2 separate regions of the Homo sapiens genome follow, and region 1 is linked to region 2. The links come from fine-mapping of genetic effects on gene expression. Tissue or cell type: whole blood. Region 2 holds a variant in brackets; the other region holds the start of a gene. All regions are shown on one strand. Distances are from middle to middle.

Region 1 (8,154 bases), 39 kb after region 2:
TATATTCCAGGAGATGTGGAAAGGTAACCTGAGATATGAAGTCATTTATTAAACTGCAAAGAAATACAAGAAAGCCATGGTCCACATGAAGACACCAGCATGAGTGTTCAGTCAGCACTACAGTAAAAACAGCTTTGTTACTGTCGATATCCTTTGGTTTTAGGTGCTCTGCGTCCCTAACAAAACCTCATTCCTATCTTGTTCCTCATCTGAATTTTAAGTGTGTGTGTGTGTGACAGTGTGTATAATGCTGATCCTCTGAAACTCTACGTTTCTAAGACCTAGATCAAAAATGTACATGTGCCCTTTTTGAGCAAAATAAAACTGATCTGTTTTCAAGACGTGAAATAGATTAATGTTTCTCTTCTTGTAAGCTTCAAAGGATGGGTCACTTGTTGCTTTTACATCTTGTGTTTTCTCCCATAAAATGGAATGATTATTCAGCACAAATATGAAATGGAATAGAGCTGAAGTCTCTGTAGTTATGAACATAGAGACACCAGAGAGAGAACAATGTTCACAGCCAGGACAGGAGCTGCAGCAACTCTGCCGCTAGAAGCAGGCGTCACAGTGCCCCCAGAGTGCTTGTCAGTCTTAGAAACAGAGGCATCGGAAGACAAGCGTTTTCAGAGAACGCAAAAAGGTCGTGGTTTACCTTCTGTAAGCTGGAGTGGAGCCACTTACATCAATCTCCCTTAGAATATGACAAGAACCAACATTTATTTCATAGTGAAATTATTTCACAAGTCCAAAGATTAGAGGAGGAAAAAAAAAATGCCACAAAACAGTGATATCCTTGATGAATTCTTCGTTAACCACAGTTACATTACATTAATACGTACAATTATGCAACACTCAAAAAACGTTATTTATGCCTAAAATTCACCATTATATAACATAGGGAAATCCATCTTGTTTTAGTAAAAGTTTAAAAATAAAGGGGGCCTTTAATACTCATTTCAGGTCTGTTTGATGTTAAAACTCTTCCACACTGCCCCATGCCTCTCACTCCACGCTGTGTGCATGCTGTGTGTGTGCACGCTCTGTGTGCATATGTGCATATGCACATGGAATTTATTTCATGTATCTGTTAATAAATGCATAATCTTGAAGTGTGTGTATAAGTACATTAATATATAGAGAGTTCTTTCCTATTTCAAAATTTTTGACATTTATATTGAAAATATGCTATATTAACCACGCATGAAACACACACATCCAAATCAAGAACAAAAAATGTATCCAAACCAAAGAACCACTGTTCTCAAACTCCAAGTCTCTAGTCAAACAAGGAAGACAGTGGCCTGCAGTACAACAGGGCTTTAGACCTCTTGGCTAATACATTCACTGCGATCTTAGTTTTTCGACAAAGGAAATGGCTACAAACGGCCACAGCTGATCTTCTCTTTAGGAGCCTGTGTAAAACTCTTCGAAAGGGTCAAACCTAACACATCCAGACTTTTATCTGCAGCCCTTGTGGTCTCCTGGAGACCCTGAGGGTGGGTGATTATTGCTATGATGTTTCTGCATTAGGGGGGTGTGTAGTTTTCCAAGAGGTACCACTCTAATTAGAACACTGATGAATTAAACAAGTACTGGAGAGTTTCTAAACTCCTTCCTTCAACTCTCACCGTGAAACAAAAGGGGAAGAAAACATGACCATTTAGTTCAATAAAATGTTCTGGTCACCAGCTCTGATTGACTGTGAGACTTAAGAGTCACGTTTTTTTTCATGTAAAAAATGTATGAAATATGTTCATGGTGAAATTGGAAATCAGATACATTCCATCAAGCAAGAATAGTGTAGTATTTTTAATGTGACATCATTATTTGTATGTGTACACATTATTTCTTTAACTTGTTCTGCATTTTACAAGATGCCAGCGTAAGAAGGTGAATCTTCTTGTCATGAATATTTGCCTCGTGTACATTTTAAGCCATAGCCCAAATGATCTGATTTGTCACGGAAATAATTCTGACACATTCTAATATAAATAATACTGAAATTGTTACTTTTTAAAATTCCATATAAAAGATGAGTACAATAAAACTCATTGAACAAACATCTTCAAACAAAGAAATAAACTCAAGAGGACCCAGGACATTTCTATGTGGGTCCCCCCCACCCCTCGACTCATAACCAAATTGAACCTGGCCTTAAAAGCATTTGAATGTCTATGAAAGTTTAAATATCATACGCAGTATTTTCAAATTCCATAAATTTTCCTCTTTTAACAGAAGTTGATGGGACTAGTAAGGAGACATTTCCTCAACACCATTTTGTCTGGAATTTTAAAACAAGGTATCTCAAAGCTGAAATATACTGCCTGCGGCGCAGTGGGAAATTGTGAGTGGGTAACCTAAGCAAAGCGCACCGCATTGAAATTCAGTCTGGGTGGGCTGCAGTCCCTAGAGAGAGGGAAGCTGCATTTGAAAGCTGTGCCTGGTCAGACCCTATGGAATCGCTACGGTTTTCGGTCATTAGATGCCTCCAAATTAGAAGGAAAAACAAGCCCTCACGAGGTTCCTTAGGCATCAGCAGCGATGCTTGACAAATATTTAAAATACATTTCAAATATAACCGCAAGTAACCTGATGCCTTAATATTACTAAGGGTTTTCCTGAGAAGGTTTGGTGACTTGAGCGTCAAACCTGCGGTCAGCAAAAGGACTAACTTTTCAAAGCCGGGATAATTCCTCTCTTGCAGAAATTAAGTTCAGACTCGATCTCATCATATTTATAGTATAAAAAGAAAGCTCCCGGCTCAAATATAAGGAAAACTCTTTACACACGACTTTATAAAGGCTGACTTCCGTGGGTATATGTAGGTCTACATAAATTTAAATATGGTTGGGAGCTAGAACTCCTCTCCTGGTGACAGCGGGGCTGCTCAGAAGTGTCCCATGTCGGCCTGGTCCTGCACCTGCTGGCACAGTGCAGAGCAACAGACGCTTGACAGAAGTGAACTCTCTCACTGTCCTCAGAAAAGAGAGGCGGACCTGAGCGACACCAGGGTCTACCAACCTTACCGCTTTTCTTTACTGTGTTTTTTTTTTTTTAAATTCACCAGTTACCCCAAGTTTTCCTATTGAAATTCAATTTGAAAACACTCACGTGGATTTGTGCGTCGCGCTTTGGGGCCAAGACTGATCCTCGGGTGCGAAGAGCAACCTCGGAGCCGGGGCTCCCTCTGCCCTGCCAGGCTTGCCCGCCTCGCCGCGGCCGAGCGTCCCGCCCAGGCTGGGATGCGCCGCGCGGGGACCCAGGGGGCTTGCCGCAGTCACCGCCCCGGGCGCGGGCCGCGCAGTCACTTGTTAGAGTGTCCTGCTAACTTGGCCGCGGAGCTCTTCCCAGCTTTCTTTCACAATGACTTCCTGAAGTTGCTCACTCGCATTGTTCCCCATTTCTCCGCCACACTCCCCGCCCCCAGCCGGCTCAGACCAGGCTTTCGCGCTCCCGGCCGACCGGCTGCCCCGCGCGCACAGCGCCGCCCGCGGGCCCCGTACCTGGCCCCCTCCGCGCCGGCCGCCCCCGCCGCGCCCTTGCGTTGCCACCAGCTGCCGCCCAGAGCGGCGGGTGGCCAGAGCGCGCGCCCTGCCACCCCGCAAACTTTGGGGTGACGCACGCTGGCGGTCCCTGCTCGACCTGCCCCGCAGCCGGCTCGGCCCCGCGCGCACCTCTCGGCCGCCTCCCGGATCGCTGCTCCGGTACAGGGAGCGGGGCGCGCAGAAGGGCGCAGAGCGGGACACGGAGAGGGTGCGTCGTCCCGTCCCCGCCCCGTCGCCGAGTCCCCCGGCTCGCGCGGCGCGCGTCTCAGCCGCAACTCCGGGCCAGAGGGGCCGCGCACGAAAACTTTGCAATCGCGCCGGGCTCCGGCTCAGCCCCCAAAGGCCGCCGGGGCGGCGGCGGGTGCGGGCCGTACCTGCTGGCGCCGCCGCCGGCTGCAGCCCGCTCGCCCGCGCCGGGCCCGCTCGGCGCGCCGCCGCCACCCCCGCGCGCACCGCGCCCGGGCCCTCCCCTCGCCGCCGCGCTTCCTCATTCCAGCGCAGCATCGCGCCGCGGCCCCGCACGGGATGCGGCGGCCGGCGCTGTGTCCGCGGGCCGGGCAGCCCGGCTCGGCCGCGGCGCTGCGGGACCCGCGCGTAACCCGTGGGGGCGCGGCGCGGGCGACACGTGCGGGCCGCCAGGAGGGGGAGGGGGACGCGCGCCGCCGGGCCCGCCACCCTGCACCCGGGGCCGCTGGTCGGTCGGGGCACCCTCACGCTCGCCCCGCTGGCGAGACTGGAGGGACTCGGGACATCGTAAAGCACTTTCCCCAGTGTCTGGGAGCGCCCGCTGTACGCTCAGCTTCACGTCCCTGGAACTGGGGCCCCTTGGCTCCCGGGTTCAGGCTCCGGCCCCAGGATGCGAGTGCCCACCCGAGGGGGTGGGAAAAGTTGATCCTCCGCAAGGGAGGGGAAGGTGCAATTCATTTTCCCAGACAACCAATGGAATACCTCTCGTCTCTCTTCCCTCCCACCTGCTCACGGCAGAAGTTAGGATGGCGCCTTCCATGTTGGCCTGGGTGCACACACAAGTGCGTGCGGAAGGGTGGCTGCAGGCGGAGGTGACAGCGAAGCAATCCCGCAGCCCGCTCGACGGCTCTTTGCGTCTCAGACCTCTCCCTGGCGTGTAAGACACCGTGTGTCTCCGTAAAACGGGAATGCCACATCTGACAGCGCACCCCTTCGCCCTACGGGGAGCCCCTCACTCTAATTAGCCGGGCTCCACCCGAGCAGGAGCCAGCAATGTGTTCAGCTTGAGCAGGAGAGAAAAAGTCATGAATTCCACAAATGCAGCCTGGGCTCCCGCCAGGCGCTAGGGGAGGGGACCCAGAGGAGTGAGATGCGCCTCCTGCCCTTCCAGACTTGTAGGAGCCACCAGGAAGGCACAGAATAAAAATCCCGGGCACCCCTGTGAGGAGGAGCGCCCTGTGAAGAGGGCCGAGAACGTGCTCCTGCTTGGGCGCGGTGGTTCGGGAAGGCGTGAAGACCCATAGGGAGAGCGATGAAAGACCAAGGGAGCCTCCTCAGGGTAGGACATGCAGGCGAAGAAGGCACAGGCCTTCCGGGTGGAGGACACAGCCGGGCAAGGGAATAAGCAGGAAATGTCCCTTCAGGGCAGTTGAGTGTGGCTGGAGACCATCGCTGCCGGGGAAGGTCTTGGCCTGGCCCAGGAGGCCTCCAAGTCGGGGGCCAGGGCACACCAGAGACAGGATCTGCCTCTGCTGCCTCTGGGAGAAGGCCCTTTACCCGTGAATCACAAACAGCGTCTATCCACATTCTCCCTGAGCGCATATGCAGCTCTTACTACAGTACTCAGTGTGTCCTGAAGGGCATTCCGCTGGGCAAGTCTGAGCCAGTTAACTCACTGCTACAGCCCAGAGAAGGGGAAGGTAGTGAAAGGTCCATTGATTTACCTTCTAGTCCTCTCCTCCACTGCGTGACCTTGGGCAGGTTATCCAAACTCCTGAGCATCATCTTCCTTGTCTATAAAAAGAATACATGCCACCAATCCTAAAGACTCCTTACCTGGATTAAATGAGGCAATAAACATAAGGTACAAGGCCCAGAGGGAGGCCAACAATGTTGTAAAGGGGACACGGGACACCTCTAGTTCTTGGATGCAGAAGTACCTTTAGCCGCTGGTACGTCTCTCTAAACCTGTGCCTTGGTCTTCAGGAGTGGACCAGTGGACCGAAACATAGGCATCTCACCAAGGTGTAGCCCACTGAGGCAGGAGCATGTGGGGCTAAGAGCCCAGATAGTTTGGGCTTATGAATCTGACTGAGGTCCTTAATCTCTCAAAGCCTGAATTTCCCCATCTGTAAATTGGTGGTGATAATATAACCCTCCTGGTGGGGTTGTTTGTGGGTTAAGGAGATCACATATGGAAGACCTTGCCACATGCCTGACAGAGAGGAGTACTTTCCAAGTAAGAACAGTTATTCCCTGCTAGCCCAACCAATGTCCCAATGAGATGAGGAGTGCACTGTGAAGAGTCAGGCTCCTTGGCTGGGTGCAGTGACTCACACCTGAGTTTGGAGCCCAAGGTGGGAAGATCACTTCAAGCCAAGAGTTCCAGACCAGCCTGGGCAACAAAGCAAGACCCTGTTTGTACAAAAAAATTTTAAACTTTAAAAATCAAACCCCATTTGTATTAAAAATTTAAAAATTAGGTGTTATGGTATGCACCTGCAGTCCCAACAACCTACTTAGGAGGCTGAGGCAGGAGGATCCCTTGAGCCCAGAAGTTTGAGGCTGCAGTGAGCCATGATTGACACCACTGCACTCCAGCTTGGGCGACACAGCAAGACCCTGTCACAAAACAAAACAAAACAGCAGTCAGGCTGCAGGTACCATGCCTTACCCTTGCCCCCAACCGGGTGGAGTTGAAGGAAGTCAAGCTTATATTATTATAACCTGGGGTCTGTGGATAGACTCAGAGGGACCAGAGAGGTGATATAAATCAAATGTTCAAACCCTTAGGGACAACAGTAAAATGCACAATGGATGGGAAAACATATAGGGAGAAATTGGAACATGTAAAACTGTTTTTTTTCATATTATGTCTAAAGTCATTTTATTTTATTTACATATTAATTCATATATTGCCCTCTTCATAATGTTAAAGTATTAAATAAAACACTTTAATTTATTCAGGCAATAATTGCTAAATCACCAATTTTTCTTCTTATGAGGCTGTATTATCGAAAGAATAGAGACCACCTATAGGATTAATCAAAGGCTACTTATTCAGAGCTCACTATGGAAAGAGAGGCAGCTAGGCACTTTTGTCCAGGTAGAGCCTGGATGGGATTTTCAAAAGAGAGTGAGTTTTTTACTTTCAAAGGAAAGTAAAAGGATGATTGAGGTGATACGATATGGTTAATAGTTTTGTTTCTTAGTAACTGTGTTTGGCAAGTTGTTTAAAGCCTGAGCTTCAGTTTCTCATCCGCAGAGCACATCTACTTCACAATGGTCTTGATAGAATTACGTGAAATTCAATGAAATAATCTATGGAAGTTATCATAATTGTATTTTTCTTCAATAAAAAAAGATCTGTTAACAGCAATGAAAAGTGCATGTCTCCTCTGATGGTTGGAAAACAGCAAGAATATTTTTAAATAACAGCAAAAGGTTTTTTTTGCTAAAAAATAAAATTTTATTTTATTTATATACCCAGGACTTGGATGAAACTGTTGCAACAAAGACACTGTTTCTTTGGTTTCTTTTTCCCAGTTTTCATGACTTCCAGCTTCTGCCTCTGCTGTTTTTGAAAAGTAATGATCACTGGCCTGGTGAGAGGTCCTCGATCCTTTTTCTTGGGCTCCCTCGTTGGTTTGGCTATTTCTAAGCATAGTCCACTAGCTCCCGCCTGCTGCTGGGGGTGAAGGAGCAGGATGCAGAGGAGAGGCAGGGGGCTGGTGCAGAGCTAGGACTGTCCTGCTGGCAGTGCCTGGGTAGGAAGCACCTGGTGAACCTGGCAAGATACTCCTCTGGGTGCTTGGTTTCCTGAAACATCTGTAAGGCCCTGTCTTGGCACCTCAGTGTCTCCTGGTTCTGCAGGAACCACAGAAATCCTTTAGCACTACTGACCATTCACATCTCTGCCTGTAGGTTTCGAATCAGGGATGGGCTGCAGCTGACATATGAATTCTTCCCACTTCCTGATAATACTTTCACTTTATTCCCTTTGAAATTTGTAAGAGAAATACACTTAGGTTCTCAAAAGCAACAAATTTCTATCAATATCATTTGGTTATAAGAGACTAAAAATCACACTGAGTCAGATATAGTGATTTGGAGGAGATAGATAGGTTTACACAAAAAATCTTTCTGATGAAAAGTTTCTGAAGATGTTTTTGATGAGTAATAAAAAATAATATATTAATCTGACCTGAACAGATCAGAACAAAGAAGAACAGAGCTGTGTGTCACTCCAGTTGATTCTTTGAATAGGAACAGGATTGGAGCAGGATTTCCGGAAGCATAAACACTCTGGTGGCATGTATTCATTTATTTATTCAGAAAGCCTGTATTTATTGAGAGTGTACCATTGCAGGTGGCTCTTGAGATGCAGGTAGTCACAAGAAAGCAGAAAGGAAGATCTGTC
Region 2 (8,000 bases):
TCATGGAGCTGTGGAAATAGCATCTCAAGGACAGGAATGCTGTCTTATTTATCACTGTCCCTGTAACTAGCACATACAGTATTTCCAAAAGATCTTAACAGGCTGAAATGAAATACACTGAACCAAATGAGATAACGATAATTGCCAGATCCTACCCTTCCCTCCAAATATCAAAGGCACAAATACAAGATGCAGGAGATAATGTCTTCAGGGCTGTTCCTGAGAAACTGACTCATGAGTTCTCAGTTGACAGTTAACATGGGTCGTGGCTGCAAAGATCGAACACAATTTTATATGTGCACATGTGCCCCATTAGGAGGAGCAAGGAAGGTGTTATTCCTGCTCAGCTCTCTGCCCCTCAGAAATGGAATAGTAAATAAAGTTGGGAAGCATGGAAAATGAGTTTAATATGCCATGCTTTCTCAGACTAACGGCAGTGAGTCATGTGAAATTACACAGTTAGCTTTGGCAAACTGTTTCCCATTATGCCCTGAGGGGGAAGGTACACTTACACACAGAAGAGCTCCTTTCGAGGCAGGGGATGGGATTTCTTTTTCATTCTGCATTCCCTGGAAAGACCAGGAAGGCCCTTTGGGTGCAATGTTCTAGGAAGGACTTGGGCACATTGAAGAATGCCAGGGAAGAGTGAGACCAGCAAGAAAAAGCAAGGCAAAGGCATCATGGTGTTTATTTCATCATATGCTGAGGAAACCAACACACTTTAGCCAGGAGAACGGGCTATTTAGAGGGCTTTGTAGAGCTGTTGTCAATGATTTGAAGGGCTGAACTGCTTGAGAGAAGAGAAAGTAGTTACACTGCAGACATCTGCAGGGCTGGCTTTAGAGACAAGCAGATTTAGTTCAGGGCTTTTGTAACAATCAGTGCTTCCGTAAGTGGGCTGCCTCCTGAGGGTTCTCAATAGGCGAGGTGATCACCTGTTAAGGATGCTTAGGAAGAACTTATGCACTGGGGCCTGATGATCTCTCGACAGCCTTCCATCCAGTATGTTTTATGAGACTGGGGATCTCTGTGCACAGCAGCAACATAACATTGTTCAAACACACCGTGCACATGGCTAGCTCTGTGGGCAGCGGGGGTGGGATGAAGTTGTCTGCACTAGAATCTCTTCTAAATTTCCATCTGTTTCATGCACATGCAGACAGAAGCTATTGCTCCCCTTTCCACTAGGAGAACAGTCAGACTGCAGTCAGTGCATCCCACAAAAGCAGTGATGGATTTCAGTGCATCAAGCTAAATATTTTCATGAAGTATTTTAACTGAACCAGATGTTCAAACCAGGCAGAACTGCCACTGCACCCGGCCCTAAATTTTTTTGCATTTTTAGTAGAGATGAGGTTTCACCTTGTGGTCCAGGCTAGTCTCGAACTCCTGACCTCAAGTGATCCTCCTGCCTCGGCCTCCCAAAGTGCTGGGATTACAGGCGTGAGCCACAAACCAGGCAGAATTGCTTGTGGGATGAGGAGATAGATTATTCTGTATTTCATTTCTATCTTTTACCTTTTTTTTCTTTCTGCCAAGCTGCCTCCATCTTTTCTTACACCAGAAGGCAAATTCTTTGGCCCCATGAATCTCATTCTTCTGGTTCACCCCTCTGCCTAGCAGAGTGCCTGGGCCACAACAGACATTTAACATGCATCTGTCTCATTAGCTGATTCTCCAAAGACGGCTCAATTTCCACCTCCCGGGGATCCCATGTGTTCTGGAGTGCTGACACCACTCAAAACCTGAGCTCCAAACCTAGAGTGTGGTGCAAGGCTTCCCTTTAGGTCTCTGCAGTTTGTTTAGCTCCACAACGGAACTAGGTCTTATGTACCTCTGATTTGCCATGATCTCTAGTCCAATATCTTGTAACTGATTCAGTTTGTGCTTTGGAGACAATATGATTCTGAGTAATATGTTAATAAGCCTGCAGATTTCTTTATAGTTTTTAAGACTAAATAGGATAAAACAAATCCATAGTATATACCCATGAATATTTTAGTAAGGTGGTAATTCACTGTGGGATGTACTAATAATTTCTGAGATCCCTGGATGCCGTCAATTCAGATTATTTATACCCTATGGGCTGGGAGAAGACCAGAGGGTGTGACCTTCACAGACTCCAGACTTCTAAGAATATTTTAATTATATAGCAAAGCTTAAAATATTCATTCCTCTTATTTTTCCCATCTATTAGGTTGGTGCAAAAGTAACCGTGGTTTTTGCTATTACTTTTAATGGCAAAAATCGCAGTTACTTTTGCACCAACCTAATATATTTGATTTAAATTTTTAGATGATACATTTTATTTTTTCCCCTCATCTGTGTAAGCACTGCTCCTTTCCCTTTTAAGTATTTTCATCTCTTACTTAAAATGTTGCTTCTTGACTTTCAATTCCAACTAAGATGATTTTCTATTTCTATAGCCTATCTCTTAAAAAGGTATCATCACAATACACTGAATTTAGTGTTTCTGTTAGTCAAGATGTCAATTACTTTTCTACTTTTAACACTGCATTGTGTTATGTGATCGTGAAGCAATTCAAGTAGATGTAGTACCTGCCTGCAAGGAACTTGCAATCTACCTGCACATGAGGTACAAAATAACGGGAGTATAACAGCTTATACATGATTGTACTTTTAGCACTGATGCAGAGGAGTGGAATAATTCTAGATGTGCTCAGATGAACTTAGGCAAATAGTTTGGAAGTTGTAAAATGTGTTTCCCAAAGCACAAAAAATAGAGAGGCAAAATGTGGATGACTTGCCCTGTGGGTTGGGGATGTGTGAAGAGAAGGAACCTGGCTTAGAAACACTGCTGATTGACTTCATAAAGGAGTCATTGGAAGGGACAAAGAAGTAAAGGAAGACAACATCAGCGGATGTGGCCTGGGTCATCTACATGTGAGGACAGTCACACACTAGACACAAGGCAAAAGGTGTGTCTTTTCTGACCTGGTCATGCAGATTAATGAGTTTTTGAAATACCACTTTACATGTCATATACTTAGGAAAAAATATGATTTCATTCAATGTATTTTGCAGATGAAGAAAGAGGAGGTAGGCCTGCCCCACACATCCCGATTCTGGTAAGGCAGAGAACTGAAGCTTAAACCCAGGACTTCTGCTTCAAAATCTTTTACAACAAGCTGGGCTCACCTTCTGGAGGATTTTTTGGGGGTTTGGGGAAAAAGAGGTGGGTAAATTTATAAGTCAGCTCAGAAAGCAATTCTCACGACTTCACAATTAAGCCTTATTTGTGAACAAAAAAACAGCATTCCTCAGGTTAAGTTAGCACTTTATTCAAAGGTCTAGGCTCTAAAAGGATTTTGGACTATTTCTAAAAGGAAAATAAAACCCAGACTCAAATATACAAAAGCAAGTGCTTGGGTCTCTGAAGGTAATCAAAACAGGGAGATGCAAAATAAATGTGAGTGATGAAAAAAATGCGGATTCTCAACGTTAGGTCTTCCAGGCATGTGTGCTGGTGCATTAGGCCTTCAGCCCATCACTGCTGCACTGTATTACACTCTAGGTACACTCAGTTAAAGACATGAAATGACCATAGCTAGAGACAGTAACATTGTAACCACAGCGTGTCTTCTCCTGGCACAAGCCTCTTGTACAAAGAAGTAGTTCTCCTTGTCCACAAATCTCAAACCAGGAAATCCCTAATTCATTTAATGATCAGGAAAATGCAAGAGATTTGTGTAGTTGTGACTCTTCCAGTTACTCCCCGCTGTACCATTATTTTAGGTTACCTATCACACAGGATGGTGTGCCTGATGGCACTGGCAGTCATTTCTCTATGTCTTGTAGAAAAGTTTACTCCTGGGAAAAACAATTTGGTCACTAGTCCTTGGACCTAAGTAACAGAATCTTGATGAAATGGTACCCATGATCAAATGTTAAAAGGAAGAAAGGGATGGAGAAAAGAAGAGAGGAAGGAAGGAAGGAGGAAAGGGAAAGAAAAAGGAGGAAGGGAGGGAGGGAGGGGAGGGGAAGGGAGACGAGGGGAAGGGAGACGAGGGGAAGGGAGGGAGGGTGGGGAGGGAAGGAGGGAAGAAAGAAAGGAAGGAAGAAAGAAAGGGAGGGAGGGAGGAAAGAAAAAAAGAGGAAAGAAGGAAGGAAAGAAAGGAGAAAGAGAAAGGAGGAAAATTAAAAAGAAAAAGGAAGAAAGGAAGGAAGGAAGAAGAAAGACAGGAAGGAAGGAAAAAGGAGGAAAGAAACAAAAGGGCAAGCAAACAAGAAAGGTCAAAAGACAGTAACGGCCCAATCAAAGCTTCCATGACGAATCTGTGCCTTTTTGGATCATGGTGTACTCAGGAAATGCAGCCGCCACAGGAGCACACGCTGTCTCCTGAACTGCAGGAAGAGCAGCGGTTAGCAGCAGGAGGTGTCCCTTTCACAGGAAGGCTGGGGTCTGGGCTGCACACTGCGGAGCAGATTCACATGCCAGGGTGGCCCCGCTTGGGCTATGAGGACATGGGTGCCAAGGTGGAACTGCTTTCTCAGGCTGCAGGCAGGCAGCTTGCTGCTTCTCTTTCTCTCTTTGAAAAAAAAAAAAAAAAGCCTTTCCTTCACCACCTCTCCTCGGTTGCTT[T/C]ATCAGGTTGCAAAAGCATCTTTTAGGAAGTATCAAGGGGCATCACTCTCCACAATTTTTGCAAAACAATTCCATAGTTGTGATGGTGTCTGTCTTTGCAGCTTAGTTTACTTACAGCCTGTCCTCAAGGGCGCTCTCTGGGAACCTGCCTCATGTCTATAAAGCAGCTACCTCATTTCAAAAATTTAAAGAGGACTTCCCAACTTAAAAAAGTTACCATAGAGTACATGGGAATACAATGAAGGGATGAAGACAAAAATTAAATGTCATGTTTTTCTACATTTAATTCAGCTACTTAGCTTTGAAAAACTGATTTGTTTGACATGTTCACATGTTGTTGTATTCTCGTTACTTTGTACTTAACCAAAATGCCTACAAGTACAAGACCTGTACTTAAAACACAGCTACATAAAATAAACCCAATTGATGTTAAAATTGGACTGGACCTAGATTTTCTTTACATCAAATGTGGGCAAAAAATGAAAGACTTAAAAAGCAGATGTTCACATACATTTGTGACAACACTGAGAAAATGTTTTGAAAAGCAAATTGATTTAAAAACTACTTTTAGAGAGTTGATAAATGACTAGTCTTTGGCTAACATTCAACAAGGGTTAATCTAAAAAGTTTTTTTTTTTTCCACAATATAATGACACACAGTTCTTTGGAGCTCTCAAGATCTGCCTGCCTGTCCAATAGGTAACCCCTAGCTGCATGTGACTCCTGAGCACTTGAAATGTGACCAACCCAAATTGAAATGTGTGGTGAAGATAAAAAAAAAATACATCCGGGGTTTCAAACACATAGTTCAAAAAGAGTAAAATATTTCATTAACAATTGCTTATATTGAGTACATACTTAAATAATATTTAAGCATACTGAATTAAGAAAATATATTCAAATTAATTTCACCTGTGTCATTTTTCTTTTTTAATGTGACTACTAAAAATGGACCAGCAAATATGCAGGTCAAATTATGTTCCCCTTGGACAGTGCTACGCTGGAATTTCTGATTTCTATATTTCACAAATAATGTTCCACAGATGCTAGTTATCATCCATCTGTAAAACCTCTGTCCCTCAAACAATGACTGTTCAACGTTGTTGCGTCTCATAAGGCATAAAGCTGGGCTAGGACTGTCTGCCTATGTCCTGATTAGAAAGACTCCATACAGCCTGGATACGGTGCCTCACATCTGTAATCCCAGCACTTTGGGAGGCTGAGGCAGGTGGATTACCTGAAGTCAGGAGTTCGAGACCAGCCTGGTCAACGTGGTGAAACCCCATCTCTATTAAAAATGCAAAAAATCAGCTGGGCATGGTGGCGGGCGTGTAATCCCAGCTGCTTGGGAGGCTGGGACAGGAGAATCACTTGAACCCAAGAGGTGGAGGCTGCAGTGAGCCAAGATCACACCACTGCACTCCAGCCTGGGCTGCAGAGTGAAACTCTGTCTAAAAAAAAAAAAAAAAAGACTCCATACCCAACATTTAAAATATGTGTGCAGGCACAGGGCAAGCAGATTTTAAGGGTATATTTTTAGGAGACTCCATCAATAATAAAACATGGTTATTGAAATGGGAAAAATTAACTAACACATATAAAACCTTAACAGAAATTTTTACACTTAAAGCTACAAAGTCAAATATAAAAATCAGTGTTGAGACCATATATAAGTAGCAATAATGCTTTAAAACTGCGAGTAAATGCAGCCTTTACAGTGACAAAAACAACTCCATTGTCATCTCAGGATGAAAGTCACTTCACTTAGATCACAGCATTCTCTACAGAACAATAATTTCACTAAGGATTACTTGCACCATAACACTAAGATTAAGTAAGGGTGGCTACACCTGGTAATAGTTAATTGTCACTAAACATTATGGACAGAGTAGAAATGCTTGGGGGGCACTGGCAGATTCTTAATTTTATTGCCACCAAGTTCAACTGGAGAGCACAGAGATATTGCAAAAGCAGTCAAAATTCTGCCAGGTTCCAAGAATCATAATAAAAATGATCATATAGCTGCCTGTAGAAATATAATAACAGCACTTTTCTCATTTCAGCAGGATTTCACTTCTAGGGTAACAGTCCTTCACTCTGAAAAAGAGAACAGCCACATCTGCCACTGGGCTCTGCCATGCAGCAGGGGGCCATGCTGAAGGCCTTCCATCGATCACACCCAGCCTGGTGAGGAGTGACACCGGATGTTCAGGGCTTCACCAGAATCATCTCCTGGTGATTTCAGTGGAAATCGACAGCCTGCAGCCACATCCCCTGTGGGGGAAGTACTCTCCTGGCAGCAGGCCTTGCGGAGACACACCCTAGACCTGTCTCTCTGAGATCCCTGCAGCTGAACTCACTCCTGAAATTAGGGCACCAAACGGCTCTTCAGTTAATGGAGTTACAGCAAGTGTCAGGTGCTTCAAAGCACAAAAATACAATCCCCAGCCCTTCCACAGTGGAGGTAGTTTTCTGATAGACTCCTTAGACATGCGCATATTGCTAAGCCCTTACTGCGAAAGTATCCTCAAGAAGCCACCCCTGCAGGCACAGGGAGAACTGCACAGGCCACTTCCTGGACCTGCACACCTATCTCAGGGCTGCATTTAATCTAAGGAAGTCAACAGAAATTTCTTTGCAGAAGACCAACTTAATCACAGGAATTAAAGAATATTGCATGGGCTAATATTTTTCTGGAAAAATCATAGTAATTTAGTAACATATTAATGTAATTTAGACATCTTGCTTTACATTTAAAAATAATTCAGCCCCAAATAAAAATCATTCAGCCCCAAATAACAGCAATAGCATAATAGCTCATAAATAAGACACAGAATCCTTTTCTTTCTTTCTTTCTTTTTTTTTTTTTGAGAAGGAGTTATCACCCAGGCTGGAGTACAGTGCCACAATCTTGGCTCACTGCAACCCCCGCCTCCCGAATTCAAGCGATTCTTCTGCCTCAGCCTTCCCAGTAGCTGGGACTACAGGCACACGCCACCACACCCAGCTAATTTTTTTTTTCATATTTTAGTAGAGATGGGGTTTCACCATATTGGCCAGGCTGGTCTCAAACTCCTGACCTCATGATCTGCCTGCCTCGGCCTCCCAAAGTGCTGGGATTACGGCGTAAGCCACCATGCCTGGCCAAATCCTTTTCTAATCATACTCCCCCAGCAACCAAACTAAATGCTAAAGATGTGTTTTGTTTAGAATATGGAGAGTCTAGTTGCTCCAACATTTCCAGTTTGTGACTTCAACAGCAAAGAGTCATTTGGAACCAACTCTTCTGTTGGACAAATTATATGTACCCCACAGTCCTCCCCAATAGATTCACCCTTTCCCAGCTCCTCCTCCACAACACACACACACACACACACACACACACACACACACACAC

The links. PIP is the estimated chance that this variant, and not a neighbour inherited with it, causes the effect.
Region 1: IKZF1 starts here. The variant in region 2 is fine-mapped to the expression of IKZF1 in whole blood (TOPMed, PIP above 0.99).

The regions. Positions count from the first base shown.
Region 1 is chr7:50,299,883-50,308,036 of GRCh38, reverse strand. IKZF1 (IKAROS family zinc finger 1) reads right to left here and starts at 3,321. Exons shown (of 8, transcript NM_006060.6): 1 at 3,115-3,321. RefSeq lists a silencer at 3,209-4,008 and an enhancer at 4,863-5,364.
Region 2 is chr7:50,339,219-50,347,218 of GRCh38, reverse strand. All of the region lies in intron 3 of IKZF1 (IKAROS family zinc finger 1), which reads right to left. Among named protein-coding and RNA genes, the nearest start is that of IKZF1, 39 kb to the right of the region's middle. The variant T/C (reference allele first, on the strand shown) is at 4,604.